2 separate regions of the Homo sapiens genome follow, and region 2 is linked to region 1. The links come from fine-mapping of genetic effects on gene expression. A gene starts in region 1. The other region holds a variant in brackets. All regions are shown on one strand. Distances are between the middles of the regions. Region 1 holds the start of CEP350 (centrosomal protein 350). Region 2 overlaps CEP350 (centrosomal protein 350).

Region 1 (2,926 bases):
GGTCTTGTACTCCTGACCTCGTGATCCACCCGCCTCGGCCCCGCAAAGTGCTGAGATTACAGGCGTGAGCCACTGTGACCGGCCAGTACGTGTTTCTTCGTTTTAAAAAAGTGAGTATATTTAATAAGGTGGTTGTTTACATTCAGTAAAATAGCGCATGAAAAGCATCTAACACAGGGCTTTAAACAGCAAGACTGGGCAAAACCTAAATAACATTTTCCTTATGTTGTCTTTTTTGCTACCACTTGCACCATACGATTACCCACATTTCCTGTCCCCTCCAGTGCAGCTTCCTGGAGACACTTCACACGTATGCAGGACTTCTGTACATCCTACTCAGGCACAGCTGTAGGCCCTACAAAGAGGGACCATTTACTGCCTCCTGCTGTCATTGATATTCGACAAACATTTATTGAGCACCTACAATGTCCTAGTTACTGTGCTAGGCCATTTTGGGGTATAGAGAGATAAAACAGATCTTAAAGTCTTCACGACACTTAAAGATGAGAAACAGTCTCTGGGTAAATAACTATCGGAGTTCAGAAGGTGGACAGAAGTGGTGGGCGGCGAGTCTGTGTGCAGTGAGCACCTAGCGGAAGATGGCATTATTTGCAGAAGAGAGGTCCTTTAAGCCAAGTCTTGATAGATGATTTCACCACGCGGAGATTGGGAAACGAGGACAAAGATATGAGAAGATATGTTGGCCACAGAGAGCCTCTCAAAGCACTGTTAAAGCAAAGCCAATACTTAATGGGAGGAAACTCCGTTTTACTTGCGTGGAGTCTTAAGTCATTAGATGCATGCTAAACAGAACTGTAACCCTCGCGAATAAAACGGCCACAGTGACAGCAGTGGGTAACGGCAGAGCTGCAACTACTCTGACAGGGGTGACGACTTATTTGGACGACAGTTGGTGAAACATTGTAAACTCTCAGAAGCTGCCGTTTCCAGACTTTGAGTTCATTCTTGTCGAATCCCCAGCTTGTTTTCTCAGCCCGGGGTGAAATGCGCAGCCAAAAGGCCCAATGAGCGTCAAAGCGAAAGGGCAGGGGTGGTCTCTTCTGCGGATATACCTTGGCTCCTCCCAAGTCCTACGAGTTTAAACTTCGACGCACCAAACATGGCTTCTTCGCGGTTCTGCTCCTTGTTTTATTTCGCTCCCACCTTTCGGCCACACTCAACATGGCCCTAACCGAAGGTTGGCATGCCTGTGGCACTGTCTCGGGACAGTTCTCGCGAGGTTTGCCTGGGCCCGACTGCTCCCGCCCTGCCTCGCGCCGCCGCCACAGCCGCTGCCGCTGGCGCCGCTCCTCCTCCGTGTCAGTTGTTGGGCTGTAATGGCGACTGGGCCGCCCCTGACGAAGTGACTCCCGGGCCGGGGAGCGGGGCCAGACCTGCGCCAGAGAGAACTGCAGGGAGCCGCAGCTCGGGGGGTGGCTTGCCCTGAGGGAGGGGAGGCAGCCTTTCCGCCTTGTCTTCCTTCCCAGCGGACCGGCGGATCCCCGGAGCCGGTGCGAGGAGGGCACCCGGTGCGTCCCCGGAGCGGGGAGGCCAGGCCGGGCAGCCCTGGGGCCGGTCGGGGCGGCGTCACTGCACCCTCCGCCAGGCTCCGCGGGATGCACCGTGGTAGCCGAGGGCGGAGGCGACACTCTCAGGTGAGCTCCTGTAGGACCTGGCTGGGACCGCGGAGTCTCGCTCAGCCTCAACTGTCTCTGTCCGCGGTCCCGGGTCCCCGGTGGCGGCAAGAGAGGCGGGGCCGGGCGCGGAGAGTCTTGGCCCTGCTTGGCGTCCCCCTCGGGGAACCTCCCTGGGTTCTGAGGCTTTTCGGGGACCTAGGTTTCGGGTCCCACCAGTGCCTGCTGAAGACGGAATTTCCTTCCTTACGTGCCAGTGTCCTCCCGCCTCCTCCACCCCTCCTCTAGCCTGCAGAGGTAAGATACCTCTAGCCTTTGCTGCCCGGAGAAGTGTCCCTTCTTCATCTGGCGATCAGGCGTATTTGGGGAGATTCCGGGGACTGGCTCCAGTGGCAGGGATGATCAGTTTCTGTTCCTTTTCAGTGGGGATCACATTCTCAAGTATAGGGAAAACTTTGATCTACTCTAGTCTAGCGGCTGCTGAAGGTAGTTTATTCACAGATAATTTGGGGAAAGATTTAAAAGGCTTTATGTTTTGGAAGTTGTCAGTATTTTCCTCTGCCTTTTAAATGCAGCTCAACATGCTAAGTAATATTTAGCTAATGTCACAAGATATGAATTGGAATTTGCCTGGATTTTAAATATTCAGATAGAAAGTTGCACATAGGCATAGATTTTAATGTTTTAATGCAGTAGCAAATCCTTCATATGGGAAAAAACAGGTTGTCAGAAATAGTGATCAATATCCATGTACTCCACCTGATTGTTTTGTTTTGATGGTGATCCTTGTTTTGAATTTGGGGAAGTCGTTATTGTTGCCATGTTAACGATACCTCCTGCCCTGTATTTGAAGAGTTTTAAAAGAAAGACTATCTTTGGCAGAGCTAGTAACAATCTGAAAAGTTCTGTAGAAACAATGATAAAATACTAAAAGTTGCCCTCCATTCTGAAAATTTCTTCGTTTAATATATTGTTTTTAAACAAGGAAATGCACTGCTAATGACATGGAATTGTGACTTTGAGGGATTGTTAGACCCATGCTGGAAGTTGCTTCAAAGCCATGGGCGTATAATAATTAGTTTCGGTGTGCTAAATTGACAAATTTTATTTAATGTAATGAAATAAATCTGAATCATTTGAACTGTCAGTGCATTAAATTTAAGATACTGTAATCTGAAAATAAACTTCAAGCTAGAATACATTGTATATGTGGATAAATACATGTGTATCTCTGTATCTCTTCATCCTCAGTAGCAAAATTTTGTGTATGTAGAGATGGCAAGTTGTATATG
Region 2 (2,926 bases), 36 kb after region 1:
GGATCACCTGGGGTCAGGAGATCGAGACCAGCCTGGCCAACATGTGGAAACTCCATCTCTACTAAAACTACAAAAATTAGCCCGGCGTGGTGGCGCACGCCTGTAATCCCAGCCTCTAGGGAGGCTGAGGGAGAATCTCTTGAACCCGTGAGGTGGAGGTTGCAGTGACCTGAGATCACGCCACTGCACTCCAGCCTGCGCGACAGACCGAGACCGTCTCAAAAAAAAAAAAGTCAGATAATTTACTACTTTGAAAATACTCAACAATTTAAAAAATAGATCAACATGTCAAATGGAAACTCTTTGATATTCTTCAGAATCTTACTGATTTTCTTGTCTAAATTTGGGGAGCATTGTGCCAGATGTTATTATAGCTAAAGTAAAAAATGATGAAAAACAAATATTATAAGAAAGGATTCCTGAGTTTTTTTCTACTTTGGAAAAAGGTATTGGGCAATATACTTTTAAATAACCATGTAAATTGATGGTAGCTGGATTATTTACAGAATTAACTTATGTCTTATGATGGTGTTTAAACTTTAGCTGAGACACATTGAAAATAAATTAGAAGTAGCCCCTACAAGTACAGCTGTGTGTGATTCTGTCATGGATACCAAGAAGTCTTCTACAAGTGCTACTCGAAAAATAAGTAGAAAAGGTATGTATGAAGTTACTTCCAAATATATACATATATTAAATATAAATTTTGACAAAACAGACAGCTAGATCTACAGGGGTGTGCCACCACACCTGGCTAATCTTTTTTTATCTTTTGTAGAGACGAAGTCTCTCTGTGCTGCCCCAGCTTGTCTTGAACTCCTGGCCTTAAGTAATCCTCTCATCTTGGACTCCTTTTAAAGTGCTGGGATTATAGGTGTAGCTACCACACTCTACCTTAAATATAAGTTGTTGATGTAATAGTTTTATTTCAGTTTGATTTCTTCTTACAGTCTCGTGTTGTTTGCTTTTTTGTCAGAGACACTGGCATTTAATTTTTTTCCTTTGATATTTGGTAGCTATGAAGCAGCCTCATGTTCAGTAACCGTAGATGGTGTTTTCACCATCTTTTGACCAGGGACTTTAGCACTATTGCATCACCCTTGACAATGAGTTTTCATTTGTTTTTAGTGATGAGAGTTTCATTTTGAGGTTATATATGTCTGATTTTTTTTTTTAATTCACAGATATATAGCACTTTGGAAATGAAATTTAGTTGACTTAACGTATATTTTTCTTGGGATTTAAAATCATAAATGGAATCTCTTTCATATGGTGACTGTCATAAATTGATACAATGCAAATTTTTCTTGGGTTACCTTTTGTATTTTGATTCTGTGGTTTCTTTCTTTTCTTTTTTTTTTTTTTTTTTTTGAGACAGAGTCTCACTCTGTCGCCCAGGCTGAAGTGCAGTGGCATGATCTCTACTCACTGCAACCTCTACGTCCTGGGTTTAAGCGATTCTCCTGAGTAGCCGCGCCACCGGGCCTTTCTAATTTTTGTATTTTTAGAAGAGATGGGGTTTCACCATGTTGGTCAGGCTGGTCTCAAACTCCTGACCTCGTGATCCGCCTGCCTTGGCCTCCCAAAGTGCAGGGATTACAGGCGTGAGCCACCATGCCAGGCCATTCTGTGGTTTCTTAATTGGTGGGTGAAAACCTCCATGTCAGTACTCTCTACCTAAACTGTGATAT[GTA/G]TATATATATATGTGTGTGTGTGTGTGTGTGTGTGTGTGTGTGTGTGTGTGTATATATATATATATATACATTTTTTTTTAACCTGGGAGTTTGTTAGGTTGTATATGATACTTCTCTCTTAAGTGAGTGAGAGCCATGACAAAAAATAAATTTTATGTGTAGAATTTTATTTTGCATTGTTTCCTCAGAATACAATTTCTGTATCAATGGAGTTACTTTAACAATTTAACCTGAATGTTTTTCATGTACTTATATAATATCCAACTAGAGATACTAGAGATAACTTATATAATATCCAACTATTAGAAATAATAGATACCTAATTTTTTTTTTAAGATACCAGCCTAATTCAGAGGCAGTTGTATTTTATATTATATGTTCTCACAGATTTCCTTTTCCTTCAGATGGTAGATACCTGGATGATTCTTGGGTTAATGCTCCAATCTCCAAATCCACTAAATCACGAAAAGAGAAATCTCGTAGTCCTCTCAGGGCCACCACCCTGGAGAGTAATGTGAAGAAAAATAATCGTGTGGAATTTCGTGAACCTTTGGTTTCTTATAGGTTAGTATTGAGAAAAAAAAAAGGTATCAAATAGGTTTAGCCTGTAATATTTACAGTAAGAGTATACGTTGTTTTCTGAGTTTTTTATAGCACTCTGGTTGTGAAATAGTATAATACTCTAATATTACTACCTTTTTCATTCTCCACAAAAGATGGCTACAAAAGATAGTGCAAACATGAAATACTGACTGCAGTAGCCTCTTCTGCAGATAAATATTCGAGGGGGAAGAAATAGTAATAGTTGCCTCAAGCCACCTTTATTGTAATAAATACGTTTCCTAGAAACAAATTATTCCATCTCTGGAAGTGTGGCTTTTTTGTTTCGTCTTAATATCTCAGATCATTTATTTTATATAGTGAACTTTATATTGCTTACTTTTTTTCTTTTTTTTTGGGTAGCATTAATTAGTCACATAAAATTCCTATCTTATTGAGAATGTGAGTTGATTTATTGTTTTATTTTGTTGCCAATGGCTTTCAGCAACTTAGATGTTCAAGATTGATGTATGAATTTTGATAGCATAGATGATATAAAATGCTTTGCATTTTTGTTAACATAGCTTAAGATATTCAACTGATAAACTTACAGAATTTTGTATTTGAGGGACACTTTACTAATGATTTCAGTGCATTCATGCTCTTATAATAAGTAATAAACACTGGGCCTG

What was found.
Region 2: its variant is fine-mapped to the expression of CEP350 in whole blood (INTERVAL, PIP above 0.99).

Annotation. Positions count from the first base shown.
Region 1 is chr1:179,953,488-179,956,413 of GRCh38, forward strand. CEP350 (centrosomal protein 350) reads left to right here and starts at 1,323. Exons shown (of 38, transcript NM_014810.5): 1 at 1,323-1,655. RefSeq lists an enhancer at 1,019-1,520 and a silencer at 1,308-1,757.
Region 2 is chr1:179,989,964-179,992,889 of GRCh38, forward strand. It overlaps CEP350 (centrosomal protein 350), which reads left to right. Exons shown (of 38, transcript NM_014810.5): 4 at 544-658; 5 at 2,099-2,258. Among named protein-coding and RNA genes, the nearest start is that of CEP350, 37 kb to the left of the region's middle. The variant GTA/G (reference allele first, on the strand shown) is at 1,692.